Linked DNA regions of Homo sapiens: all the other regions are linked to region 2. Evidence: fine-mapped expression QTL. A gene starts in region 2. Each other region holds a variant in brackets. All regions are shown on one strand. Distances are between the middles of the regions.

Region 1 (9,999 bases), 32 kb before region 2:
TCACCCAGGCTGCAGTGCAGTGGCGCGACCTTGGCTCACTGCAAGCTCCACCTCCCGGGTTCACGCCATTCTACTGCCTCAGCCTCCCAAGTAGCTGGGACTACAGGCGCCGGCCACCAGGCCTGGCTAATTTTTTCTATTTTTCAGTGGAGACGAGGTTTCACTGTGTTAGCCAGGATGGTCTCTATCTCCTGACCTCGTGATCTGCCCGCCTTGGCCTCCCAAAGTGCTGGGATTACAGGTGCGAGCCACCACGCCCAGCCACCTCAGCGATTGCTTGGTCACAAAATTACTAAGAACCAGGCCTTGAACCTGAATCCAGGCCTTCTGACAATAGATCTTTCCAGTGTCCCTGCCCTGTCACTTATCAATGAAGAAATCACCCCCTTAGGCCATATTGCTGAACAATGAACCAAGTGATTGAGAACTGTGGGGGGAAATCCTAAAGTTTTTAAAGCACTGGTAGTTACCTGTCATGACGACCTACTTAGCCATCTTGTTTGGACACAAAGGAACTGACACATACTTCAATCTGAAAGCTGTACTTCCAAATTGATGGGGCCCAAAGAAAGAGGGGTAAAAAGCAACATTTACATGAAACAAGGATGTTTTCTAGGAGCCCCATTCAATTTCCAAACTGGTAAGTGCTGCGTCTGATAGCAGGTACTCAGCCCAGCACCACCGCTCTACTGAATACTTCTTTCCTTTGCATCTCCTGTGTCTGTGCTTAACAGGGCTGATAATTATGCCAGGTGGATTCACCTAGGATGATCTATTTCAATTAAATTGTGACTGACCTTAATATAGTGAAGACATATAATAGAACCATTTAACTTACACGAATTCATCTACTTGTAAATGTAATATGCATGCAAGTATACATAATATAAGCATATGTACTTAAGTGATATGGCCAAATATTGCACTTCCTGCATAAGCCTAAGCCATGGAATGGGTGTGAGATGCACTGTTCTCTCAGGGATATCTTACTTTATGTGCTTCCCCTAATATGAGCATGTCCTTGCTGAGTATGACATAGCATTTAAAGAAATTAGAATAAAGATGCTAACTAAAACAGGTTTTTAGTTAAAAAGCAATAAAGGAGAATCCTCATCCAAAAATGGAAATGAATAGTAGGTGAGTGAGGAGTGGGAAGGACAGGAAAATAAGAGACAGGTGAATGGGAGCCATGGTTTCGACTCCAGGTGCAAGGGAGCCTAAGCGACAGGCTCTGCTTGAAGCTGCGAGCCTGGGGTGAAGCCTGGAACTGGAAACTTCTGCCCATTCCCTCTGCTAGGCCTCGGACTAAACCTAACAGAAACAGGCAAGACAAGGTGGGAAAGATGAGTACAGGGAACACAGAGGACTTTTAGGGCAGTGAAAATACTCTGCATGATACTATAATGGTGGAATACATGTCTTCATACGTTTGTCCAAACCCACAGATCATGCAACACCAAGAATGAACCCTAATGTAAACTATGGGTTTCAGGTGATGTGGATATGTCAGTGTAATGTGGGCTCACCGATGGTAACAGATGCACTGGTCTGGTGGGGGATGTTGATAGTAGGAGAAGCAATGCGTGTGTAGGGGCAGGGGATAGATGGGAAATCTCTCTACCTTCCTCTCACTTTTGCTGGGAAATTAAAGTTTCTCTTAAAAAATTAAGTCTCTTAAAAAATTCATTTGTTAAAAAACAATCAAAAACCGGGAAAATATTACAAATAAAATATCATTGCATAAAAGACTCAGGCAAAATGAGAGATCTATGACATTCACAGATGGGAGGATGAGAAATCCTAAGCTAACCTAGAAATTCAATGTCCAGGCTCCTTAGTTAGCCATTGGAGGCACTCTGGCCTGGTCCCTGCCAACATCCCTGGCCTTGCTTCTTCAAATGGCCCAACAGCCAGTGCTGCCATCTTCCCTGCCTCCAACCTTGTGCTCCTATAGCACCCCCTACAGCCTGCTCTCCACATTGCAAGCAGGATGGTCCTGCTGAAACAAGTCTGATCACATCACTGCCCAAACTGGCCAATGGCATCTCATCTCACTTGAGTAAAAGCCCAAGGCCTCAGCACAGGCCACCAGGCCATGTGGCCTGTCCTCTTCTCCCGTCACTCTCCCATCCCCCTTGCTCAAAGGAGTCAAGCCTGATCCTTCCTCATGGCCTCTGCACTCTACTCCTTCCATGCTGCTCCTCTCCCCAGAGCAGCAGATCTTACATCCTTCAGTGCTGACACCATCGAGTCCTCCCTGCCCATCCTGGATAAAGCAGCATTCCTCCCACCAGTCTCCATCCCCCTTACTCTGACCTATTTTGCTCAACAGCACTGACCACAATGTGAGCCAACACACTGTCTTCTCTGACAGAACAAATGTTCCACAAGGACAGAGACTTTGTTTTGGTTCATGGCTACATATTCACAGCTTTATCATAGTTGTAGTAGTTCTTAAAATAGCCTGGCATGTGTGTGCCATGCTCAAAAAATACGTATTGAATAGATGAAGAGATGCATGTGACTCCAATAAAATTTGTAACAGAATTTTTCTGGAAATTGACCAATTGATTCCAAAATTTATATGGAAGAATAAAAGTGCATAAATAGTTAAGACAACTTTAAAAATGAACAAGAGGAGGTATCCACCCTTTAAGACAGTCAGCTGCAAAGCCACAGTAACTAAGTATGACACTGATAAGGAAATACACAGATAACTAAAAGAGTCCACAGACTCTAGCAAATGAGGGGGTGTGAGGCCTGAGAGCACACACCACAAACCAATTGGGAAAGAACAGCCTTTACAATGGTGTTGGGATAACTGTTTCAACCACATGAAAAAAAAAATTAAATTCTTACCTTATACTATAAAAAGCAAATTTCAATTTCAAGATTTGACATTCAGAAGTTCTCAAAAACTGTAAGAAGACATTACTGTATGACCTCATGGTAGAGAAGTCTTCTTAAAGATACACACCAAAAAAACCCCATAAAGGATAAGGTATATTGGTTTGTCTTAAAAATTAAGAACACATATTAAAAAAATGCATCATAGGCCAGGCACGGTGGCTTATGCCTGCAATCCCAGCACTTTGGAAGGCCAAGGCAGGTGGATCACCTGAGGTCAGAAGTTCAAGACCAGCCTGGCCAACATGGCGAAACCCCGTCTCTACTAAAAAAAAAAAAAAGGCCAGGCGTGGTGGTGCATGCCTGTAGTCCCAGCTACTCAGGAGGCTGAGGCACAAGAATTGCTTGAACCCGAGAGGTGGAGGTTGCAGTGAGCCAAGATCACGCCATTGCACCCCAGCCTGGGCAACAGAGAGAGACTCTGTCTCCAAAAAAAAAAAAAAAGAAAAAAAGCAAAGAAAATAAAAACTGAATATACCTAAATGCCCACTAATAAACAAAAATGTGCTATATTTAATAGAATAGAGTGGTTATAATTAACTAGATCTATATATATCAACACAGAGATGCCTCCAAGACATAAGTAAAAATAAAGAACACAGATGGCTTGATATTTATTTTTAAAGCACCAAAACAGTACCATCTCCTTCCAGACACTAGGTGAAAATATAAGGAACAGATGAACATTGCAAGCAGATGAACAGGTGAACATATACACAGACTCACTGCAGTGGCTGCCTCTGGAGGGAACAGGACTGTGAGAGCTGGTTAAAGAGAACTCTACTTTTATCTTTATGTTTTGTTTCTTTAAAAAAAAAAGTGGAAAGATGACTTCAGTATGGTGGGAATGGAGATAATTATTGTCTGTCCTTTTTGCTTATTTTTCAAATTTTTATTTACAGTATACTTCCTCTGATGCTCAAACACGTGCCCTGTTTCAATACTGGTAGAAAACTGGTAGTGCTAGACACACTAAGAACAATATAATACTGAATTTTACATATGATTTAAAATGATGTCAAAGTAAATTTTGACTATATGTGACTATAGCCTTAACTGACAACTTTAGTATTAACCCTCTTTAAAGTTGAGACTCACAGCATTTAGCAACATGGTGACTTAAAAGCGAACTACATGTAGAACAGTTTCTTCATTTAGATAAAGATTTCTGAAAGACCAATCTTGTGTATAAAATTAAGTTAATCAAAATCCCTTTTCTCCAGTGCCATCTGGTGGAAAGAAGAGGCAACCTCACCTGTACCTGCCACAAAATAACCACAGCTGTGGTTATCAGAGCAACATTCTCTCCCCCCCAACCACCCCGCCTTCCCTGCCCGCAGAGCACCCTCTGTCATCCCCTCTGTCACCTAGGCTGGAGTGAAGTGGTGCGATCTCGGCTCACTGCAACCTCCACCTCCCGGGTTCAAGCGATTCTCCTGCCTCAACCTCCCAAGTAGCTGGGATTACAGGCGCCTGCTACCACGCCTGGCTTTTTTGTATTTGTAGTAGAGACAGGGTTTCACCATTGTTGGCCAGGCTGGTCTAGAATTCCTGACCTTGTGATCCGCCCGCCTCAGCCTCCCAAAGTGCTGGGATTACAGGTGTGAGCCACTGGGCCCGGCCCAGAGCACCATTCTTTACAAAGAAGGCCCCTCTTTTATTCTGATTACTGTGTGGTGTTCTGTTAACTGTTTACTTTCTTTAGAGCCTTCCTCAAACTGGAAATTCTTCAGCCTACAGGTTAGATAAGAAGCAAGTGGATATTCTTCATTTTTTTGGCTTTCCTGGTTTCCATTGACTTGACTTTGGCAAGGCATTATTTAGAAAAGGCTGTTCTTCTATCTTCTGCTCCAAGATTCTTTCTTTACTGTATTTAAATCAAATGTTTTAACTTCTTCCCCCAGACCATTCTGCAATCATAATCTGTATTCATCCACATTTCAAGCCCTCTAGAATAAAAAATTCCAATAGTTGATTTATACGTAAAACATGTTAGTGTTATTTTGCTTTACATAAACTTATAAGGATTTTTTATTTAAAGGATTTAAAAATATAACACAGTCAATATAAACATGTACTGGGAATTATAAACCATTCTTTCTTCTAAGCACTGGATGAGATACTAAAAACATACAGTATCTTACCAATAGCCATTAAAATAGGCTAAAATGAAAAAGAAACC[G/A]TTGTAACAAGGTTACTAATCCCCCAACTTTCAATGCTGAGTTCCTTCATCATCCATGTGCAATCCAGAGATGACATCTAGCAGGGTGGTAAAATTATTCTGGAAAATGCCAACTGTACTTGGACAAAATAAGTTAATTCTATATGGTTGTCCATTAAAGTTTTATGTGGCTATGGTTCCACTGGAGCTAAAAATTGGCTTTTAACTGTTTCCAAATCAGAACTAGCAGAGGAGAGAAGTAAATAAAGCCAATGGCACTCCCTTCAGAGGCTCAAAATGGTTAGATTTTGATGCAGATTTAACCTTAGCGAGTTTCAGTCAGTCCATTTAGATGATCCTGTAGGTTCATACAAATACACTGAACCGTTGGTTTAACTTCTCTTCCTTCCTCAAAGTTTATGATAAAGAGACTCATCCCTGTATTGGGAGTGACTGACATAAGTTCAGATCTGCTCAGAGTGGCTGGTAAGGAACACTTAAGGTCAGTCAGAAAATAATCAAACAGACTTCTCATGTAAGCACCGTGACTCACAACTAAGACACTGGCTGCTAATCCTGGAATACCGCTGTCTGAATTAACTTTAGAGCTGTGATTTTTTCCTAAAGGAAATATCTCTGCCAAAGAAGTTTCCAGACAGTTGCTTGGAGATCCTTGGGAAAACTGTTCTTTTTGATCCGCTTCTTTCAGGATTAGTTGACAAAGAAATTCAAAAAAGTCTATTCCACGCATTTTCACCTACAAGAAAAGAAATAAAAGTCAAAATAAAGTGACATTAATGACTTCCTTAAAACGTTAACATAGAACATAACTGACTGGATTTTTTTCTAATATTGAATGCCAAGTACTACACAAGCAGAAGAATATCAATCTACATTTCTATTCGTTCAATCAGTAGTTTCATGGACATATATAAGTATCCACCACATTTCTGGAATTACAAAAGCACCATGGAGACCAAGATGAAGAAGATCCAATTCCCAATTCCTGAGTTCAAAGCACTCACGGTCTAGTTAGGGAAATCTACAAGCCAACAGAAACTCATAAAACAGTGCTAACCAGGAAGCTGTCTCTGGCACTTCAGTGCCACTGGAACAACAGCAGCAACAAATCCTTCCCTTACTAAAGTAATGGAAAGTATTTTCAAGAAAATTAAGATAAAGATTAAGGAGGTGGTGGTGGGTTAGGGGGAATCACCAATATGCAATTCGAAGCAGAACACTCCAAAGAAATGCAAGCACAGGGATGCCACCATGAACAGAGCTGAGGAGGCAGCAGAGGCTTGAAGACTTCATGTTTTGAGTTATTTCACCTCGAGTGACTTGCCGATCACCCTCTTTGAACTCCACTCCCACCACTAAGCCACTGCTTCATATTCAAAGGTCTTTTTTAGAAGTACCATCTAATAACACCTTTCCTTAAGTCCATTATCAATAATGACAAAGGCAACTGAACAGTAAATAAGATTTTAAATAGAAAAGAATAATTTGCTAAGTAAATAGATAATTTAAAATGGAAAAGAGAATGAACCAAGCAACTTTCAAACTGCTTAGCTAAAATTCCAAAACATCTAATTTTGAGTCTTAATTCAACCATTCTGACATCGGCAGCGCCACATACCTGGTCCAGCGTCTCTCCTCCGGGCGGTGTAAACACAGGGCACTCTTCCCTGGCTGCTTTGGCCATGGCCCTCAGCTCACTTAGCGCTTTGCCTTCTACAACCCCGTATTTCTGAAACAGTCCAATAGATAACAGTTTCTCAAATGAAATTGCAATATAACAATTAAGTTTATGTTTATGGCAAATTTAGAACATTCATCCCAGGAATAAGCTAACTCTCCTCCACTTAATTGATTCTATCTCCTCTGAACTGATAATGAGAATGTACTCAGTAGAGGGCCATGAACCTTAGAAAATATAATTGAAATCTTAAGTTGTACACTATGTCCAAATGGGTTATTTTAGAAGAACTTGCTATTGCAAGCAGATGGTGGGAATTTATTGAACAAATACAGAGATTTGCACAGATTATAGGACTAGAGATTAACATGCACAAGGTACCAATTCAGCCATCTCCCATCCACACATACTACACCATTTGATCCCAATGACAGCACCATGAAATAGCTAAATAAATATATCACCATAGTTATAAGGAAGTTGAGTTTCAGAGACGCTAACATGAGAGATCTATTTCTTTTTTTTTCTTTTTTTTTTTTTTGAGACGGAATCTCGCTCTGTCACCCAGGCTGGGGTGCCGTGGCGCGATCTCAGCTCACTGCAACCTCCGCCTCCTGGGTTCAAACGATTCTCTTGCCTCAGCCTCCCGAGTAGCTGGGACTACAGGCGCGTGCCACCACACCCGGCTAATTTTTTGTATTTTTAGTAGAGATGGTGTTTTACCATGTTAGCCAGAATGGTCTCAATCTCCTGAACTCAAGTGATCTGCCCACCTTGGCCTCCCAAAGTGCTGGGATTACAAGCGTAAGCCACCACGCCAGCCACATGGCAACATTGTTAAGCTATTAAATTGGAAAATCACAGAGTCTAATAATACCAATTGTTGGTGTAAAAAAACAAAACTTTCTCCTAGGTCATTCATGGGACTATAAATTGGCACAGGTTTTCTGGAAGGCAACTTGGCAATATGTATATAAATGCCTTTAAAAAAGTACACACTCGCCGATGTCCATTTCTAGAAATATATAGGTCTACAATAAATTAACTACAAAGATGTTTATTTTGACATTATTTACATCAGTGGTAGTCTAGTGAAAATCTAGCTTTCCATCAGCGTAGCTAGGTTACATAAATTATGCAATATCCATATTTTTCACCTTTACTTTAAACTCTTCTATACTGTGTTAAGTTCTTATGAGCGTACCTTCTTTTATACCTTAAGATGCTTGTCTCGTTTGATTTTAATAATAAGATCCTATATACGAGGGTATGTAACAGTGACTGTCATATGGTAGATTCTTAAATATTTTCACTGATTCGAAATCCCTAGCAGAAATGCATTTAACTTTTAGCCAAGTGACAAACTGAGGTGGCTTACTGATAATTTATGGGGAAGAACAATATGTAAATAAGTTACTCACCCTTTCCCGAAGTCTTGAGTCATACTTTACCGTCATATCTTTGCAAAATTTGCTTCTCTCCAAAATTCCATGCATGGTCTGAAAATCAAGACAATTGTTTCTTTCTTTATAAAAATAATCACCATTCTGGTGGAAGCACTGAAAGAATCTATGTCATCTTAGTGAATAAAAAAGAACTAGAACCAGGCACGGTGGCTCACACCTGTAATCCCAGCACTTTGGGAGGCTGAGGCGGGTGGATCATGAGGTCAGGAGATCGAGACCATCCTGGCCAACATGGTGAAACCCTATCTCTACTAAAAATACAAAAAATTAGCCGGATGTGGTGGCACGCACCTGTAGTTCCAGCTACTCGGGAGGCTGAGGCAGAAGAATTGCTTGAACCTGGGAGGCGGAGGTTGCAGTGAGCTGAGATTGCGCCACTGCACTCCAGCCTGGGTGACAGAATGAGACTCCATCTCAAAAAAAAAAAACAAAACTAGAAATGATTTTCCTTTGCAAAAGTTGCCTCTCTGTGTACATCTGTGTACACATCTGTGTCTCTTCATTCCTGATTTTGATATTCTCTTCTAACCTATCTTTTAGTTCAGAAGTCAGCACAATCCAGACCATCATCTGCTTTTGCAAATAAAGTATTTTACTGGGACACAGCCACAGCATTCATTCATGCACAGTTGATGGCTGCTTTCTTGCTATTACCGCAGACTTGAACAGGTGTTAACAGAGACTGTATAGACTATAAACCCTAAAAAAAAATTACTATCTGGCTCTTTACAGAAAATGTTTACTAATCCCCATTCTAATTCCTTAATTCGCCATTCAAATGTGTCTAAATTGTTGTTAAACCCATCCATTGAGCCTTAATTCCAATTGTATTTTTAGTTCTAGAATTTGCATTTGGCTCTTTTTTACAGTTTATTACAGTTCTGTACTGAAATTCTACATCTTTCACCTATACAAAAATATAGTTATTTTAAAGCTCATGTCTGGTAACTCCATCGGGTAAGTCATGTGGCTGTTTCTGTTGTCTTTAGCTCATTTTTATTCACATTTCCTTCTCTCATTGTAAGTCTAGCAATTTTTGATTGACAAGCGACCCTGTCACATAGAAATAATTTAGGTCCATGATCTGCCTTTTTTAAAAACACATTTCCCAACAAATTAGACATCATCATCATACTGTTTTATATGTACTGTCAATATTTCCTTGTATTTTCCTAAACCTTTACCAACTTCTTTGCTCACTATTCTTTTCTGAAACTCAGATCTCCCTTCTGCAATTATTTTCCTTCTTTTTCATTTTTCCTTTCAAAGTTACTTCAGAATCTCTTTGTCTGAAATGTCATTTCACCTACACAGCAGAAAAAAATCTTGCTGGGTATAAAACTCTAGGTTAATCCTTGTTATTTCTCAGCACAATAAAGAAATCATCAATATGAACAAATTTGCTGACAGCCTAACTAATGGTCTTTAATAAAGGATGGTTTTTTCCTCATTCTTTGGAGTCTTGCAATTTTGCTATAATGAATGTAGATATGGGTTTCTTTACTTATCCTGGTTGGGATTTGGTACACTTCTTGGATCTTTCAACAATTCTGTAAATTCTGTAAAATTGTCAATATTCTGTAACCTCTGAATATCACCTCTTCCTCCCATTCTCTCTGCTATCTCTTTCTGAAAGACATTAGAACTTCTCATCATGCTCTTCATGTCTTCTAATGTCTCCTATTTTATTTATTTTTTAAAGGGACTTTTTTTTTTGAGACAGGGTCTCGCTCTGTCACCCAGGCTGGAGTGAAGTGACACAATCA
Region 2 (9,999 bases):
TCCATTTAAGGAATTCAAATTCAACACACAATACTCAGCGTGCTACAAAGGAGGAACAAATCATGGGAAAGCTGTTCTTTAGTGTAAATGAAAATGTAAACCCTCACCTGATATCACGAATACAGCTTAGTCCTAATTCCTTTACACTAATACATTCATTTGCAAATATAGAAGATTTCAAGAGCTAGTAACACAAGACTTTTGGTGGTCTTTCTTTTTTTTTTTTTTTTTTGAGACGAGTTTTACTCTTGTTGCCCAGGCTGGAGTGCAACGGCGCAATCTGGGCTCACTGCAACCTCTACCTCCCGGGTTCAAGAGATTCTCCTGCCTCAGCCTCCCGAGTAGCTGGGATTACAGGCGAGTGCCACTACGCCCAGCTAATTTTTTGTATTTTTAGTAGAGACGGGGTTTCACCATGTTGACCAGGCTGGTCTTGAACTCCCGGCCTCAGGTGATCCACCCGCCTCGGCCTCCCAAAGTGCTGGGATTGCAGGACTTTCGGCTGTCTTTGATCTTTATAAAGTATCTGTACAAGGTATCTTTATACTTTTATAGAGCATTAAAATTTTATAAAAGTATTAGCTTTATAAAAATACTAAATTACAGATGAGCTAATAGTATTTTGCTTGCTTTATTAATATACAGAACAATTATTAGCATTACACAAAAAGTAACTGCCAATAAAAGTACAGTAAGAAAAATCAGTTTTGCTATCAGTAACTTTACTAATTCGGCCAGGTGGGGTGGCTCACGCCTGTAATCCCAACACTTTGGGAGGCCGAGGCAGGCGGATCACCAGAGGTCGGGAGTTCGAGACCAGCCTGACCAAAATGGAGAAACCCCATCTCTACTAAAAGTACAAAAGTAGCCAGGCATGGTGGCACATGCCTGTAATCCCAGCTACTCCGGAGGCTGAAGCAGGAGAATCGCTTGAACCCGGGAGGCGGAGGTTGTGGCGAGCGGAGATCATGCCATTGCACTCCAACCTGGGTGACAAGAGTGAAACTCCGTTTCGTCAAAAAAAAAAAAAAGCAAAAACAAAAAAACTTTACTAATTCATTTTTAAATCATTAAAAGTATATTAAATTTAGTTTGCCAAAAAATTTTAAAGCTTTACGAGCTGCCTAAAAATGGAAGTGAACTTTTCTGAGGATCCGACAAGATGGCCGAGGTAGAGCAGAAGAAGCGGACCTTCCGCAAACTCACCTACCGCGGCACAGACTTGGACCAGCTGCGGGACGGGACGTGTCCTGCGAGCAGCTGACGCAGCTGTACAGTGCGTGCCAGCGGCCGCAAGTGAACCCGGGCCTGCGGCGGAAACAGAACTCGCTGCTGAAGCGCCTGCGCAAGGCCAAGAAGGAGGCACCGCCCATGGAGAAGCCGGAAGTGGTGAAGACGCACCTGCGGGACATGATCATCCTGCCCAAGATGGTGGGCAGCATGGTGGGCGTCTACAACGGCAAGACCTTCAACCAGGTGGAGATCAAGCCGGAGATGATCAGTCACTACCTGGGCGAGTTCTCCATCACCTATAAGCTGGTGAAGCACTGCCGGCCCGGCATCGGGGCCACCCACTCCTCCCGCTTCATCCCCCTCAAGTAGTGGCTCAGCTAATAAAGGCACACATATTTCCAAAAAAAAAAAAAAAAAGGAAGTTAAATGGATGGTTTTGCCGGGGACTCACTGCAAACACCTACAACATTCCAAGGAACCAGACCCTTCAGTAGTGCTGGATAGGTGATGGTAATGCCAACCTACACGTGTTGGAGTTTTCAACAATGCTGTGCCATAAGCTCATGAGAAGTTATAGTCTGACAATGATGATAGACTTGAATTCTGGAATCTTGGGCAGTCTGTTCCAGAAATGATACACACTGGTACTTTCATTTCAAAGTATGAAGAAAGATAAACCACATACAGGAACAGCACAAGATTCCTAACAGGTTCTGTTGAACTTAAATTGCTTTAAAGATTTTTTTGCATTATCTGAAGAGGTAAGTCCAATAAAATTATCTAACTCTTCAAAAAGTCATTACATTTAACTATGGTGATAATGAGTCAAATTTAAAAATCACTTCTTTTCCTGAAAGAATCACCAGGTTTTGGTTTTGAGAACTCTGAAGGCAAGAAGCAGGAGGATCCAGACCGGAAAGCATTGAACCAGCCCTCTCACTCCATCTTCCTACACATAAAACAGAACAAAATAAACTATTGTCATAACTCCACACAATTATATTAAGAGACTAAAAAGTAGCCTCAAAAATGGCTGGTGATGTTCAAGTAATCTACAAATACCGGGTTTTAACAAATTAAGTAGGAAACAAAAGACGGTGAGTGGTAAAGTTGCTTTGGTTAAACTCCTACTTCCTCAACTTGCCATGTGACTTTAAGCAAGTTACAAGGCGTCTCTGTCTCAGCTGCCTCATGTGAAAAATGAGGATATCAGTCCTTAACTCACTAAACTGTCAGATTTTAATTACAACAGTGCCTGGCAAATAATCATTTATTAAGACTTATTTTTTAAATGATTCCTATGAGGGCCTCCGGAATCAAACCCTTTTTAAGCAGCAGAAAGGGAATAAAATCCATATTTATATGACTATTGTCTATTAGGAATCTAAATAGGAATCATCTTACTTTTTAGGGGTTGCCTTACCCCAAATATTCTACAACTTCTGAGTTTTCTTTTTTTTCTTTTTGAGACAGGGTCCCACTGTGTCGCTTAGGCTGGGGTGCAGTGGCCCAATCACAGCTCACTACAGCCCTCACTTCCCAGGCTCACATGATCCAAGTGATCTTCCTGCCTCAGCCTCCCTATTAGCTAGGTTCACAGGCATGCACCACCACAGCCAGCTTTTTTTTTTTTTTTTTGTAGAGAGGAGGTTTCACCATGTTGCCCAGGCTGGTCTTGAACTCCTGTGCTCAAGGGATCCACCCACTTCCGCCCCCCAACGTGCTAGGATTACAGGGGTGAACCACCTTGATGGTCTGAGTTTCAATTATAAATATGACACTGGGCTGGCTGGGTCAGGCGTCTAGAAAGTGCACTAACATTGGAAGAAAGGGTGATCAGGCCTCTAGTTCCTGTTCTGCTACCGATTAGCTGTGTGACCTTTAGTAAGTTAAGAATTCTCCCAAGGCATTCTATACAACCGAGAGGGGTGGGAGAAGAGATAGTGAGGAACTAGATTTCTAAGGTAGCCATTAAAATCCTGCTAATCCTAAACAGACAATTTTAGAGGATTCTTAAGATTATCTTTCTTATAAAGGAAGGACAGGCCAGAAAAGATAGCTGTTAAAGTCAATTGACAAAGTTAAATCATATTAATGTCCTTTGTGAGCTCCATGAATGCAGAAATGGTATGTTATTTATCTGTATGATCCAGTCTACTGGCACACATTACCTACTCAAAATGCTGGTGTGCTGAACTATACGTTCGTATTTGGGAATCAACTGCACTTTTATTGGAGCTTTCTTTATAGAAGTTATTTCTCAGATATATTTCTTTCCCTGTTGCATCATACACTTTACCTGTCCCCCATTTAATTCTCGCATTAAAGTAGTGAGATACGCACTATCATTTGCATATCAGGAAACTTAAGTCCAGGCTACCTGGCTCTTAGCTGGAGAACAGACTCCAACCGAGGTCTACCTTGCCTGAAAAATCTGTGCTCTTAGCAGGGCGCGGTGGCTCATGCCTGTAATCCCAACACTTTGCGAGGCCGAGGTAGTCGGATCACTTAAGGTCAGGAGTTCCAGACCTGCCTGACCAACATGGCGAAACCCTGTCTCTACTAAAAATACAAAAATTAGCCGGGCGTGGTGGCGCATGCCTGTAATCCCAGCTACTCGGGAGGCTGAAGCAGGAGAATCGCTTGAACCCCGGAGGCGGGAGGTTGCAGTGAGCAGAGATAGCGCCACTGCACTCCAGCCTGGGTGACAGAGCGAGGCTCCATCTCACAAAAAAAAAAAAATAAAAATAAAAATCTGTGCTCTTAACTACCCTGATTTTCACCTCCCGTTAACACTTGGCAAATACATAAAGACCTATCAGCATGCAGCTCCGTGTAACGTTATGATAATAAAAACATTTATTTGGGATGATACGGTCTGCTGAGATCAGAGCTGTGATCCTCTTTTCTCTCCCAGAACTGTAACCTCTGGGGAAAAGAAAGAAGTCTCATATATGTGCCTGGGGGGCTGACTGCCTGGGGAAACGAGGGGGAACCTCAGAAACTGAGAGGATAGCGGAAGGCAGCCGGCATCAAAAACATCAGCCATGGACGAGCAATTCTGCAAACTCTTTGCAATCTGCTGGGGAGCAAAATCGGTACCCAGACAAGTCTGTGGACATGTCTGGCACCGTTTTTGGTGCAGCCACCAAGTGCCTACGAACCCCGATCCCTTGCTCCTCCGGGCCTCACTTTATCTGAAACACGGAACGAAGCTATCTAAGACCTGCCGTCGTCCCTCGGGGCTGCTGGGGTGAGAGGAGGGGCGACACGGGACGGCCCCAGGGCAAGCGCCCCGGAAAAAGCGCTTCCAAGCCAGCCCTCCCGGGCTGGAGCGAGCAGGGAGGGGAGAGGGTGGTGGACCCGTTTTCCCTTCACCCGCTCCAACACACTCAAGGAAGAGAGAGAGAAAGACATCCTGCCACAGCCATACTCACTGCCGGACAACAGTCAGAGCGAAGCGAGCCATGTTCCCGGAGCCGCGTCCCGTCGGTGGCCCCGCGCCGCGCTGCCCCTGCACTGCGGGCTACCTCCCCCACACCACTTCCGCCAAGCAGCCGGCCGGCTCCGCCGCCATAGGCCGAGGCGGCCTCGCACGTCATCCCCGAAGGCCACTCAGGGCCGGGCGAGGCCGACGGGGCGGGGGAGACGAGGGAGCCACGGGGGCCCCGCCCAGGGCTGCGGCGCTTGCGCCCCTGCGCGCCGGCCTGTGATTGGCGCGCGGCAGGTGCGGGAGGCCCCGCCCGCGGAGTCCGCGGTAGGATTCCTTCCCTCGATAGCCGGCAGCCTGCGTTCGGGGCAGATAAGGAAGCCGGCGCACTGATTTGTGGTTGTTGCGATTGAGGCTGGAATGCAACCGTTCGTCTTATAGCTGGCCACTGTGATGAACCCCTCACGGGTGTACAGCGACCAACAGACTGTGTTCTATGAGGTCTGTTAGTCCCTAACCTTAGGGACGTAGCGTCGGCCAGGTCTGTAGACTTAGACCCACCCACCCCAACTCCGCCGGGACAGACGCCCTCCGTGACCAAACTTTAGTCGGGCTCCTTTGAGGCCTTTTCTATACTAGACGGCATCCTCGGCCTGCTGAGCCTGGTTTTACCAAAGAATCCTGCTAAGCCTGTTTATCAAGAGAGACCTCACTGTTGATGCTCTCTTCTAAGGCCCTTGATATCTAGTAAAGTTCCTCCTCCCCCTCCCCCAGATAGCTTACCACGTTCTGGTAATTTCCCATCTTCTCTTTCATCCCTTCCATCCCGCCCCCTGGCTATAAATCTCCACTGGTCCCGGTTGTATTCTAGAGTCGAATTCAGTCTCTCTCACCTATTGCAGTAGTCTTGAGTAAAGTCTTGCCGTTTTTAACAAGCCTCAGATGAATAATTTCTCTTTAATAGCCTTCAGAACGTTGAGGGAGTTGCTTCATGTTAGATATGAGTTCTAAATTTCTTTTCAAAGAATCAATATGTCAGTATGTTCAATTCTTTGCTTTTTACTTTTAAACTTAACTTCCTCCTAAAGCAACCTTCTCTTTTTTATTTATTTATTTATTTTTTTGAGATGGAGTCTGGCTCTGTCACCCAGGCTGGAGTGCAGTGGTGTGATCTCGGCTCACTGCAAGCTCCGCCTCCCGGGTTCACGCCATTCTGGCTCAGCCTCCCGAGTAGCTGGGACTACAGGCGCCTGCCACCACGCCCGGCTAATTTTTTGTATTTTTAGTAGAGACAGGGTTTCACCGTGTTAGCCAGGATGGTCTCGATCTCCTGACCTCGTGATCCGCCCGCCTCGACCTCCCAAAGTGGTGGGATTACAGGCGTGAGCCACCGCGCCCGGCCACAACCTTTTTCGATTACCTGCTGCACTCTGACTCCTTCCCATTACCTACTCCACCCTGACTCCTTCCCATTACCTACTCCACCCTGACTCCTTCCCATTACCTACGCCACCCTGACTCAGATTACCTGCTCTGTCATAACTGTTTTTCCCGCCAAACCACTCACCCCCATCACTCTCTTTAGATTAGCCAATCGGAATTAGTTTAGCCTGTGCGGTGGGGCACTACACAGCAGCAGGGGCCACGTGCGTCAGGGATAAGAACCCCTTCCCCTCCCTTGTCCAAGTGTGCGCTCACCATTGCTCCATCTGTAAGGACGCACCCTTCTATAGAAGTACCTTGCCTTGCTGAGAATTAAAAAGAAAATTTTATATTCGAGTGCTATTTCTTTTGTGGCACTGAAAGTTTATTTATAACATGAGCTTCTCTAACCCTGGGTTTTGTGACAGGTAAACTGGGATAGCAGTACCTAGCAATGTGACACAAGTAACAATAATGTTAGCTAGGTGACATTGTCTTCCATGCACTGTTACCTAAATTCTTGTATTTCATAATGCATTTATTTCCTTGAATCCCCACTTATATATGAAAAGATGTGTTTAGAGAAGAGATGAATGAGATACTTAGATTCATAGGCACACATTTCAAAACAGTCTTACATGTAATATCACATTTGGCCTTCTGAACAATTCTAAGGTAGACAGGATAGGCTACATTATCTTCACTTTAGAGATGAGAAATATGGCCGGGCATGGTGGCTCACGCCTGTAATCCCAGCACTTTGGGAGGCCAAGGCAGGTCAGGAGAATCTGCAGGTCAGGAGATAGAGACCATTTTGGCTAACACGGTGAAACCCCATCTCTACTAAAAATACAAAAAATTAGCCGGGCATGGTGGCACGTGCCTGTAGTCGCAGCTACTAGGGAGGCTGAGGCAGGAGAATCGTTTGAACCCGGGAGGCAGAGGTTGCAGTGAGCCGAGATTCCAACACTGCACTCCAGCCTGGGTGACAGAGCAAGACCCCATCTCAAAAAAAAAAAAAAAGAAATATGGCCGAGAGAGAGACAGCGATTTGTCTAGGCTCACACAACTGGTCAGCGGTGACACAGAACTAGTTTAGAGGTCCTCAAACCTATCTTTACATTAGAATCGTCTGGAGACCTTTGCCAGGCTACACCCCAGAAAAATCAAATCTGAACTTCTGGGGGAAAGACTCAGGCAGCAGTATCTGTATGCTTTTAATCCCCAGCTGTTTCCAACATACAAGTGGCTGTTCTGAGAGCTAGCAGTTTAAAGCAATGCTTCACAAACTCGAACGTGCACACAAAGCAGTTGGGCATAGTGTTAAAATGTAGATTCTGGAGTTAGTAGATTGGAGTGGGGACCAAATTCAGCATCTCTAACAGCTTGCAGGTCAACAGGAGGCATTTTCAGGATGAGAGTGGAGGGATAATTCAGAGGGCCCTAACAGTGGGGCCCAGATATCGTGTGTGTGTGTGTGTGTGTGTGTGTGTGTGTGTGTGTGTGTGTGTGTGTGTGTCCGTGTCCGTGTTCTGAATGCCCAAATGAATGAATCATCCCAGCAGATTCTCCTGGAAGTTTGAGCTGAAAAAATGAAATTAAGTAGTTATCTGTGAGGGGTGAAGCAGAAAGAAAGCACAGAAAGAAATCATAGGATAGAGTTAGGGCTATGAAGGGGCATGGTGATTGAAGCTGTGAAGAAACAGAAGCCATAAATAATACAAGTGAGAGAACAGAGGAGAGGGTACGAAGAAGCAAAGTCAATGGAAGAAGCAAAGAGACACACAGAGAGACACAGACACAAGTGAGTAATGCAAGGAGTACCCAGTCACTGGTCGCTCAAACTGCCATAGTCCCAGATACCTTGAAAGTTCCGGTTTGTATAGTAAAACCTCTTTCACTTTAAGGTGGTCCAAGTGCATTTCTAACGCCTAAATAAAAACAGCTTCCCATTTTGTCTTATTTAATACACACAGTAACTCTGCAAGGTAGGAGTTATTTCCATTTCACAGATGAAGAATTAAGGCACATACAGGTTAACTAATTTCCCATTTCTTGGGCCAGGCACAGTGGCTCACGCCTGTAATCCCAGCACTTTGGGAGGCCGAGGCGGGCGGATCACTTGAGCTCAGGAGTTGGAGACCAGCCTGGCCAACATGGTGAAACCCCTCCTCCACTAAAACACAAAAAGTAGCCGGGCGTGGTGGTAGGTGCCTGTAATCCCAGCTATTCGGGAGGCTGAGGCAGGGGAATTGCTTGAACCCGGGAGGCAGAGGTTGCAGAGCCAAGATCATGCCACTGCACTCCAGCCTGGGCGACAGAGTGAGACTTCATCTCCAAAAACAAACAAACAAACAAAAACTAATTTCCCATCTCTCAAGATCTCAGAACTGAGTTTGAGACCAGATAAGTATACTCCAGGTTTCAAAACTATAAATCATGAGGGTAACTACTGGCTCTATTTCATTACTTCCTTGGTTCCTAAGAAAATGTTTGGAACACAGTGGAGATTCCATTAAAATCTGTCAAATGAATGAAGAATACCTGTTATGATCAGTTTGTCTAATGAAGCATACATATTTAAAAAAGCTGACATATTGGAGAGGATTATTGTTTTAGGAGAAATTTAGAAAGTTGCAAGGCATCCACCAATGTTATTTCTTTTAATTATCTAAGGAATAAATTAAAAAACAATTCTTCATAAATTTTAAGAATCAGGGGCCAGGCGCGGTGGCTCATGCCTGTAATCCCAGCACTTTGGGAGGCTAAGGCAGGCAGATCACTAGGTCAAGAGATCAAGACCATCCTGGCCAATATGGGCAAACCCCGTCTCTACCAAAAATACAAAAATTAGCTGGGAGTGGTGGTGTGCACCTGTAGTCCCAGCTACTCAGGAGGCTGAGGCAGAAGAATCGCTTGAACCCGGGAGGCAGAGGTTGCAGTGAGCCGAGATCGTGCCACTGCACTTCAGCCTGGCGACAGAGCGAGACCACGGCTACAAAACAAAAAAACAAAAAAAAAAACAGCAACGAAAAACTAATCAGGGGCAAAAACCAGGTTGAAAAATGAGGTGTCTTCAAAATAGTGGACATTGTCCTGCATTATTCACTCAGTGGTTCAGGGATTGCCCTTCCACTTATAAAATGAACAGGGAGTTCACTTAAACTGTATTTCAGATAGAAGCTAGAAACACCCATATATGTATGTATGTGTATATATGTGTGTGTGTGTGTGTGTGTGTATCCATATATATTCAGAGAGAAGCCAGAAATACCCCTATATATATATTTCCAGGTTCTATCTGAATTAGTTTACGTGAACTCCTTGTTCATTTTATAAGCAGGATGTGTGTACATATATGTATATATGTATATACATGTATTTGTGTGTATGTGTGTGTATACGTATATAAATACATATATAAAAAATATGTGTATATATGTTTGTTTTTTTTTTTTGAGACAGGGTTTCACTCCCATTGCCCCAGGCTGGAGTGCAGTGGTGTGCTCTCAGCTCACTACAACCTCTGCCTCCCAGGCTAAAGTGATCCTCCTGCCTCCCGCCTCCCGCCTCCCGGGTTCAAGCAATTCCCCTACCTCAGCCTCCTGAATAGCAATTCCCCTGCCTCAGCCTCCCGAGTAACTGGGACTACAGGCCTGCACCACCATGTCTGGCTAATTTTTGTATTTTTAGTAGAGATAGGGTTTCACCATGTTGGTAAGGCTGTTCTCGAACTCCTAACCTCAAGTGATCTGCTTGCCTCGGCCTCCCAAAGTGCTGGGATTACAGGCATGAACGACCACACCCAGCCATCCACCAATATATTTTGTTGACAGCCTCTCAAATCACATAACGCCTTTTTAAAAAAATGAAAAATGGTGCTTTGTTGAAGCGCATCATATGATGGCATTCTG
Region 3 (9,999 bases), 30 kb after region 2:
GGGTTTCACCAGATTGGTCAGGCTGGTCTCGAACTCCTGACCTCAGATGATCCACCCGCCTTGGCCTCCCAAAGTGCTAGGATTACAGACATGAGCCACCACACCCAGCCTGGCCAGCTCTTGACTGATGACCCCTCTGACTGGAAGATAAAAGGATGACCAAGGCAGGTACACTCCATGAATGAAGAATTCTGAACTCCCTTCCCCACCCTCTTCTAGACTTACCTTGTGGTAAGGCAGGACGCTAACCCTCTCTGCAGTCTCCACCTAACCTTCCTTCAGGTTCCACTTCCACGAAACTTGACAATGATCAGCTTGACTTTCGACTACACAAATCCCTCATTCTAGTTCAGCAAGACTAAAAGGGCAAAAGCCTGTCTTGTATAAATGATGTTGAACGCTACTCTCTGATGGTGGAAAGAGAACTTGGCCTCTCCCTTCCATGAGACAGAGCTCATGCCTTGCATATGAATACCTTTGTTTAGCATGGCAGGGGCCCTTTTTGGACTTGGGAAGGGCATATAAATTCTGTGTGCTGGTGGGAAGTGAAGGCAGAGGAGATGGTGCAGTGGTGCTGATACCTGCAACTGGACATGCCAACTCCACATCGCCCGGGTCTTGCCCAAAGCAGGAGGGCAGGAGAATGCATGGGATTGGGGTGGGGGTAGAGATGAGGGCAGCCACCTGGAGAGAGGAAGACCTCCACCTTAAATCCAACCAGGTTGCTTCTATTAGAGGATCAAGCTGAGAGAAGAGTGGAGTTAGTGCTTCCAAAGGGGCTGGATTATAAGAAGACATACACAAATAATCACAGACTTGGAGAATTTGGAGGTCCAAAGGGCCTCTGGAAATCAAATAGCCAAATGCCCTCGTTTCCCAGCTAGGGAATGGAGCGTGGAGAGTTGACGTGGCTTGTCCCAGTGACATCTGGCTGAAAGCTCAGACTGGCTTTAGAAAGGGCAAGCCTCCAATTTCAGAACTCCTTTTTCCTATATACCTTGACTTCTAAGCTCTAAGTAAAGACATACAGACCAGAGAATCTCCAAGAAAAAGAGACAGAGCCCAAGTGGCTGGAAAAACACGAAAGCGCCTCTAATCAAAAGGTGTTACACGCATGTCAAGTGTGGCGGCTCTAGGACATCAGCTTTCCTGCAGCCTCCAAAGCACCAGCCATTGTGTTAAGATGCCCCAAATTAAGCTGATTAAAAGGGAAGCCATAATGCTCGTCTGTCAGCCTGGACAGGTGGTACCCTACCGCGCTGGCGGTCGGGCAGACCTCCAACTTCTATGATGATAGGCCCCCTCCCTTGCCCCCTTCCCTCCTGGCTGCCCCCGCCCCCAAGCCTGGAGCCCTCACAGCAGTGTTTGTGATCTTCAGCTCGTTACAAGGGCCTCTGACTTCCTCTGCTTGCTGGCTCGAGCTCCGCGCCCTGCACCCTCCTCTGCCTCCATGAATGGGCTGACGGAACTCCTACCATTAGCCCTCAGTGTAACTGCACCACCTCATTGTCACCACACACGCACTGCACTCAACAGGGGGACAAAGGGCTGAATGAGCCCCAGACCCGCGGCCAACTCAGGCAGAGACAACTTAGGAAACTATCTCATTCTTCCTTTCTTCACAGGCTGTTTGGCTTATTTCCTTGCATACCAAATGAGGCCCACAGAAAAATGAGGCAGGAGAGGGAGGCATCAGCCCCCGATTCTATTCCACCTCCCCACCCCCAGCTTCCAGCAACACTTCACAAGGTTCCTGACCACAGGCCCTGAAGAGTCCACAGAAGACAGAATCTGTAACAGTGGAGGCTTGAAAATGACATGTGGGGCGAGGGTGGCGGCACTTCCAGCTACGGAGCAGAAACACACAATGCTAAACCCCATGAATCACACACATGTGGTCGAAACTGAGACTTCTTCCACGGCGCCTCCACCTCCCTGCTTTTTAATAGCTCATTGATAACCAGGACCGTAAAATGCCAGGATGACCCTAAGGAAGGGATATCCTGGAATCTTCTCTGGGCAATATTTAAGAATGTGTCTAGGGACAGGGACGAGAGTTGAAACACTCCCTATTGGGTACTGTGTACACTGTCTGGGTGACGGGTTCGACTGAAGCCCAAACCTCAGCATCACACGATATATCCACGTAACAAACCGCACATGGATCCCCTGAATCTAAAGTTTTGTTTTTTGCTTTTTGTTTTTAAAGAATGTGACAAAGAGTTTTGATGTGACTTAGACAAAAAAGGATAAATATAAGGAACAGATGACTAGAGTCTTTCTTCTGTTAAGTATCTTGCAATAACTTCACAACACCTTTATGGCCTGTGAGCCTCCATTCCATTTTTTAGTTAGTGAATTTGTGCAACTGTGTCATATGAAAATGAAGCCACTTCATTTAACCTACTCTAAGATAAGGTTGGGGAAAACTCAGAAGGCTCGGAAGGCCCTGACACAGAATTGAAGTTAAAGAAAAGACACAGCTTTTCAAAGGACATGGACAGACCAGTGAATCGGAAACCCACTGGAAACCCATCTGCCTGCCTTTGTCCTTTGCTCCTTCCTTCCTCTTCCCTTCCTCTCTTAAGCATCACTCCCAATGACTCTGCCAGGGGCTCTGGATAAAGAGCTGAGGAAAAGCTGGGCCTTATTCAAGAGGTTCTATAGACAAGGAAGCAGTGAGATCAATGCTGGCACGCAGCCCGACTAGTGTGCAGAGGGGATGGAAGAGGACCCCGATTCAGCCCAAGGAAGCAGGGCCATGGTCACCGGGGACCCAGGCCAGTGGCACCCTCCCCTCTCAAACCTACCCAGGCACTGGACACCCCCAATAGACGTCCCCCCTACAGCCAAACTGCCTCTCTGGCTGTTTTTAGCAACTCTTACGATTGGAAGGAAAAAGTATTTAAAATATACCACTCTCTGAGACGTTTATTCCCTATAAAACTGTCAGGCCCCTCACTCAGCTTTCTCTTTGGAATGAAGCGTTCTGGTTTATTTTGGCAACCAGACGGAGCAACAAAGGCCGACTTTCTCAGAGCCGCATGCGTCCCTCATATCAAAGCTATCTGCTCCTGGCCAATGAACCACAGAGACTCGCCTGGCCATCTCACAAGAATCAGGGGGACCCTCTTTCCACAGCTCGATCCCCGACAACCCACGACCTAACCCCCAAAGTAACAGAGAGCATTGCAAGCTTGAAGAAATCAGAAACAGCAAGGTGTGTAGGAGCTGACATATAACTTCAGGGGCTCTGGGGGAAACTGTCAGCTCTTCCTGATTCCCGTTTGTCAATGCACTAGGGCCAGGGGGCAAAATGTGGTCCTGTGTATTTCACTTTTCCAGGGAAGAGCTCAACATCAACCTATGGGCATTTCATAGCGTGGCCCGAGAATGTTTCAGACATACATACATACATATATATATATCCATTTATGTATGTGTGTGTATATACATATATACACACACACATTTTACTATCATAAATACACATAATGTCAAATTTCCCTTTTCAGCCACTTTTAAATGTACAGTGGCATTAAGTACATTCACACTGCTGTGTGGCCATCAGAACTCTCCATCTACAGAATTGTTTTCATCATCCCAAACTGAAACTCCGTACGCATTAAACACTAACTCCCCATCCTCTCCTCTCCCCAGACTCCTGGGAACCTCTATTCTACTTTCTGTCTCTACGAATTTGACTATTCCAGGTACCTGGTATAAGTGGAATCATACAGTATTTGTCTTTTTGTGTCTGGCTCGTTTCACTTAACATAGTATTTTCAAGGTTCGCCCATGTTATAACATGGATCGGAATTTCATTTCTTTTTAAGGTTGAATAATATTCCATTGCGTGCCCATACATTTTGTTTCTCTACTCTAAGAACAGTTTCTATCACCAAGTTTTCTCTGCTGGGAGGCCGGCATTCTACGTTAGGCCTGATGAGCTCCTTCTTTTGGGTTGATTTCCTACTGCATTTAGGGTTCGTAACACGTTACGTAGCACACCTTTGTTTACGTTCTTAATTTGCTAGGGTTTTGCACGCTTTACTCTTGCTTCATCATACAACTGCTAAGTTCCTTGAAGGCAGGAATCTCATCCTCTATTTCCCAGATGCCACCATCCACCCCAACTTCTAGCAACAACTGGGCCTTCAGTAAAGACTTCCAGAAACGAATGAAGGAAATACACCACTTCGTGACTCGTGAAATGGTAAACAGAGCTCAGGAAGCACAACTCACCTCCCTCCAAACACTAATGTGTTCTAAATTCTAGTCCTTTTATTTTTCTTCCCTCTGAGCGTCAGCTTTTCAGAGAACACAGGCTGATGGATGGGAGGAGATTTAGCACTTGGAAAGGTGCATAAACACACACACACACACACACACACACAGCCTAGCCCAGAGCTGCTTGAACCTTTCCACTAAAAACATTTTCAGGGAGAGCGAACCAGCCTCCGGGGTGCCAGAGGTAAGCCTGGAACTTCCTGAGGGCTCAGATTTTTCTTTGAAAAAGTGTTATGAATTGTACATTTCACCGCGTTCACTCTTGGTTTTTAAATATGAACATGTTCAACCCAGGTCCACCGGTGTGAATGAGGCACACACAGGCAGCCCCAGTTAGGAAACACGGCGTGTGCCCATTATAGAAATGAGGTATCAACTTGACCAACAGTTAGGATTTATAGGAGGACACCCCTAAACCAGCTTCGTACCCACTTCATATCCATTTAACAGAGTTGGCCAGCTGACTTAAATGGACTGGCTACGTAGTATCAGAAAAAGGCAAACAGTTTCCCCAGATGAGATGACGGACTGACTTGCCTGCGGTCTCGAAAAGCCAAGAGACTCAGCAGCAACTCCCAGGAGGGAAATTTCCACCACTGTCCATGTGAGATCAGTAACGGGGGACAAAGGGAGGTGGGAAAAGGCTGGAGCCGGTAGGGTGGTCAGCCCATCAGAGCAGGTCTATCAACATCGGGGGAAAAGGTTACAATGCCTGGGGGCAGGAGGAGGGGGGTGGCCGCTTCCAACTCCTGTCACTGACATTTTTGTCTCCAGGCATTGAGGAAGGGCTTGTCTTAAACTGGCTGAGAGTCCTATTTGTAAGGCAGCCTTAATTGGAGACATTCAGAAAAGGAGGAAAGCGTACCATTTCTATAAACGTTAAGTCCCGTCCACGATTTTCCTCTGGAGGATTAGAAAAGCATTCTTCATGCTGCACTGGAGGGAGGTTTTCAGTCTGTGTTCTGGAGTCCTCGTTTAAAAAGCGTATGTTTGGAGCCCGCATTTTAAAACCATATCTACGAACTATCTCAGAGGAGGACCCCGGATTTGCTCCGTCAGCATCTCCCTGCGCCATTTCTCTGAGCTGGGAACAAATGCCAGGGAAAATCCAGGTGGGCGGGCGAGGAGGCCGGCGAGCTGCAGCCGTGGGCTCTCTGAGGTTTAACCTGTCCCGTATCCCTCGTGCAGGCCTCAGCCATAGGCCTATAAACCACATGATCCCTTAACTCAATAAAAGCCCGCAGAGGGCATCTGAATCCCCCCGGACCATCCAGAGGGTGTCATCGTGAAGTGCCCAGCATTCTTCAGCCTCTCCATGGTGATGCATGAGGGCTCAGGGCCAACACCCCTCTCTCAGGTTGACTTTAAACCCCAGGGTTTTTTTTCAAACCAAAAGATCCCAGGAGCGGCAACAAGGGTGGAGTGGGAAG[T/C]TTCCAGGGGGCAGTCGGAGCCTGGGGGTTCTAGCCCCAGCTCAGCCACTGCCCACCCCGCTCCTGGCTGGTTACTTCAGTCCCTGTCCTGCCCGTGGAAAACGAAGGAATGGCCTCTCTGACCTCTTGGCACCATCCTGTCTCGGACGGGCTAGGACTGCAGCTTCCTGCTGATTGAATTCAGAGGCTCACTTGACCCTGGTCTCTCTCAAAACCTTTCTTCTCAGGAGCTCCAAATTCTGGCAACAGGAAGTTAACAGCCTCTGGGCCGTCCACAGGGCACACAGAATGGGGAAGCTCCGTAGCTAATAATAGTTTCTTGAGTTTGTATGGCACTTTGTCTTTTGAAAGCACTTTGTAATCCATTACTGCATTGAACAAAAGGGAAGAGAGAGCGGGGAGGGGTCGAGAGGTTTGCCAGGGACGGACACCGTTCTCACAGTGGGGCACCTCTTGTGTGTCTGCTCCATCCACTGCAGCTGAGTCCTGGCTCTCCTTTCTCCTCTGTGCGCCTTACAGCCTCAGCGTGTGAAAGCAGACACGGCAGCTCTTCGCTGCCGGGCAGAGGCAGCCTGGCAGCGTGTACAAATATGGCAATGAAGCAACAATTCAGACCCACTGAGAAGCCCACGCCATAAAGGAACATCGGTAAACAGCCCTCCCACCCCCACCCCCTTCATCTGCTTGCTGAGTTTTCTTCCGTATTTTCCCGTGCACAGCTTTTCAGAACCTTAAGAGGGGGTGTCACCTGCTGAACTTTGCACTCCCTTGGATGTCGATCTTAGGAAACAAACCAGAAAAATACCTCTGACACAACATAATCAAATCCGTCGTCTCCTTCCCTGAGCTGAGAAGAGACATCTGGACTTAGCCAAGAAGGTGGTGGCCACCTACCACGTCTGTGTTGGTGATCTTAGCCAGCAGCTCAGTCAGGGCATCACAAGTGAGCGAGCTCACTTCCTCATCCTGCTGGAGCCCACAGATGGCTGCTCCCACACTTCCAGTTGCGATCATCGACGGTGGGTACATGGCAAACTTAAAGTCTGCAAGGAATGAGAGGCAGAAGGTCAGGGCACAGAACGAATTTGGATCCTGGAGCTCCCGAGACTGCAGAGACTCAGAAACAGGACGGCAGCAGGTCAGCGGCGCGAGTGACCCCGTGCCCTACAGGCATGTCCTCCCTCGAGTTCTTTCACAAGGAGCCTGTGTTTATTTGCCATCACCATGGCTGTTCCAGATTAAACGAAGGAGACTGAGGCAGGGAAGGAAGACAGCTTATCTAAGCGCACACAATGAATGCACAGAGGATTCAAGGTCCCCAATCCCCAGATCCCAGTCATATTAAGCATGTCTGAGTTAACATTCTTGACCCTGGTGGGGGGAGCAAGGTGAGCGAGTCATAGTCTCCTCTAGAGGTGATGGTGGGAACAGAGCAGAGAATGCCTGAGACCAGTGCAGACAAGGTACCCCATGGGCCATGCAAGCAGGACAGACCAGGGGCTCCAGATGTGAGAAGGAGGGAAAGTACAAGGAGATGGGAGAAACGGGCAAAATCTATGCATAATGCTAATTCAGATGGGATCTTGTTATAGTCTCTGGACAGGCATTGAGGATTAATATGACCCCCACCCAAAAAAAAAAAAAAAAGGTTTGATCTAAAAAAGGAAATGAGAGAAGCAGCAATGCAGGGAGTGGGCGAGTGGGGGCTGAGTTCCACCCAGTTCCCAACCTCTGGCCCAACAGCAAGAACCCTCAGAACATTAGGGCAGAGGATTCTAACCCTAACATAGGGCTCTAACTAAGCACTGAAGATTAATCATTGCATCCGAATCAGATGGGTGACTCGGTTTCGATGTTATGACTCATGAGACTGAAGGCCCCATTTTATTGCTAAGAGAAAAAAATGTGACTTGCTACAGGGAAGTGCAGAATGAGGATAATAAATCAGAGGGGCTTGAACCCCGTCCACTGCCATGCTAGAGGGCTCCTCTTGGAAGACCAGCCCCCTTGTGTTCCTCCGAGCACTCCTTCAGAGGGGCTGGGTGGCCATGATCCAGCAGCTGCTTGGTCCATCGAGGGGAAATAAAGACAGCCAACTTCTCCTGTTACAGCTGCTGACAGCTACCAATGACCACCACATGCAGTACGCTACACATTACGTCCTGTTTAATTTACCCATCAGCCACAGAAGATGCACACGAGCGTCACCCTAATGGTATGGGTGAGAACCCTGAGACTTTTGAGAGTTTAAGTTGCCCCTGCTCGTGTTGACAGATATTAGGGTGGGTATAGTTGCAGCCATCACGCTAGTGACGGTCCTGGAGTGCAGCAAGTCTTCCAAAGCGTACTCTTTCTCGTTTTAGCATTGCTCTAGTGAGCTTACTGTGTGTAGACATGGAAGGGGCACGTGGGGGCAGGAGACACAGCATACAGGGAACCGTGGGTCACCCTTCAACTTACAGCAAAAACAATCAGGTTAAATCTACAAAAACCAGCCCCTCTCCTATTTCCCCTTCCTCCTGTACACACTCTATTACAAACACACTTTCTACAGCAGCTCTTTTAATGGTCAGCCCATTGCCCCAGCATCAAGTTAGCAGCATTGTTAGACACCGTGGATCCCTGAGCCAAGCACAGCCCTCCCCTCCCATCATGAACGCAGAGCAAACCTGGCCATCTGCCTGTCTCCTTGGCTTTTTCTCCATTGCCCTCTCACCATCTCCACCTCTTGAGGGACGTATATAATGGTGCTGCGCCCACGCCTGCTGTCCACCCGCCCCTCCTACGCCTTCTCTGTCGCCATGAACAGTGTGACAAAGCCAGCCTCCCTGCCTCTTGCTCTGCTGTAGGTCTCTTCCACATGGGTCACAGGAGAGTGTTTCTCTGCCCAATAACCTCGTTAGCTCCCCCCTGTGACATTCATAACACAAGCGGGGCAGCCGGCCCATGGCCCTGGGCCCACAAAGGCCCGGGTGGGAGCATCTGCCAGGGAAGAGGCAGGCAAGTATCCCCGGCCCTCCCTTCCCTCTGCCATAGGCCTCAGACCGGGAAGCACACCTCACACATGCCCATCTCTGCTGTCCCACTGCTAGCAAAACCAACTCTTATTATTGGCATACGAATGAACTTCTGGAAGCCAGCAGGCATAGGGGGAACAGGTGCACCGGTTGCACAGGGAGACTCTACCTCCCTTTTTGTTTTACTAAGAAGATTTTCAGGGGAGTCCTCTTGGGGACACTGTCCAATCCCACAGAATTGGGGAGCACTATGTGCATGAACTTGACTGCCTCTCAGCAGCTCAGAGTGGCACCAAAGGAGCAGTGTGTTCCCACAGCCAGAGGAGAGACGCCGCTGGAGACGAGGACGGCGGCCGTGCTGCCCTCTGTTGCCCGCTACACAGAAGACGAGCATCTTCCTCGGGATCCCTGAGCATGCCCCACCTCTCCTCCAGGTTAGTCAAATACTGAGGCAACATCAGCCCTCCAGCTAGGTCCAGACGTGGGACTGTGGGCAAGTCACTTCCTCTTTCCAAGGGCTTGGTTTCCCATTTGTCTAATAACGGGTTGGGTGAGATAAGTGTTTTTCTAACTTCTAGCTGCAACTCATTAATGGGTCATGAAATGCATTTGTGGGTCGTGACCAGCACTTTCTGTTGTTGTTCTCCTTTAACCAAATAGAGTAGGATAGAAAGTATCAGGCTCACCGTATGTCGTTAAGAGTAAATATTGTTCGGAGAAACTTTTGTATCAGTTTGATATACTTGTACAAGTATCCTGAGTTGTGTTATAAAATGTGTTTCTTCCTACATGGCTTAGGTCAAGAGTTTAAAGATAGTAAGCAGGATAACCTCCCAGGTGCCTTACAGGTCTACTTTGCTCTTACTTGAGGATCTGGAATGGGAATGACTCCCAAGGAGAAGAACAATGAGGAGACAATAGAATGGATCACGGTGTCTACCAGCCGGCAAATTCACAAAGCAGCCCTCTCCACAGAGCGGCGCTACTTCCCCGTGGCACCAGGGCTGCCCCAGGACCACTCTCAAGGACATCCCCCTCTCTACTGGTAGGGGATACTGAACAGAGAGAAAAACAAAAAAATCAAACATCATTTCATCTGTGCACTAGCTTCCTAGCTGTAATTAGCCAACCCCCACCCTCAACTGTGGAAAGCTCCACCTACCCAATGCAGCCATTCCTGGAAACCATCAGCTTTGTCGCTATGACAGGATGGAGAAATGGTCACAATATCCACTCAGAAGAAGGAAGCGGAAAACCAAATT

The links.
Region 1: its variant is fine-mapped to the expression of TIGAR in thyroid (GTEx, PIP above 0.99). The same link has a PIP of 0.9 or more in iPS cells, prefrontal cortex and prostate.
Region 3: its variant is fine-mapped to the expression of TIGAR in whole blood (INTERVAL, PIP 0.98).

What each region holds. Positions count from the first base shown.
Region 1 is chr12:4,348,086-4,358,084 of GRCh38, reverse strand. TIGAR (TP53 induced glycolysis regulatory phosphatase) reads right to left here. Exons shown (of 6, transcript NM_020375.3): 4 at 8,189-8,266; 5 at 6,708-6,818; 6 at 1-5,825. The coding sequence ends at 5,394. Among named protein-coding and RNA genes, the nearest start is that of FGF23, 27 kb to the left of the region's middle. The variant G/A (reference allele first, on the strand shown) is at 5,090.
Region 2 is chr12:4,315,975-4,325,973 of GRCh38, reverse strand. It overlaps TIGAR (TP53 induced glycolysis regulatory phosphatase), which reads right to left and starts at 4,761. Exons shown (of 6, transcript NM_020375.3): 1 at 4,671-4,761. The coding sequence starts at 4,702. It also overlaps the pseudogene RPS15P7. RefSeq lists a silencer at 4,671-5,050 and an enhancer at 4,516-5,169.
Region 3 is chr12:4,285,606-4,295,604 of GRCh38, reverse strand. It overlaps CCND2 (cyclin D2), which reads right to left. Exons shown (of 5, transcript NM_001759.4): 4 at 6,615-6,763. Among named protein-coding and RNA genes, the nearest start is that of CCND2-AS1, 14 kb to the right of the region's middle. RefSeq lists enhancers at 989-1,488, 1,489-1,990, 9,105-9,154. The variant T/C (reference allele first, on the strand shown) is at 5,721.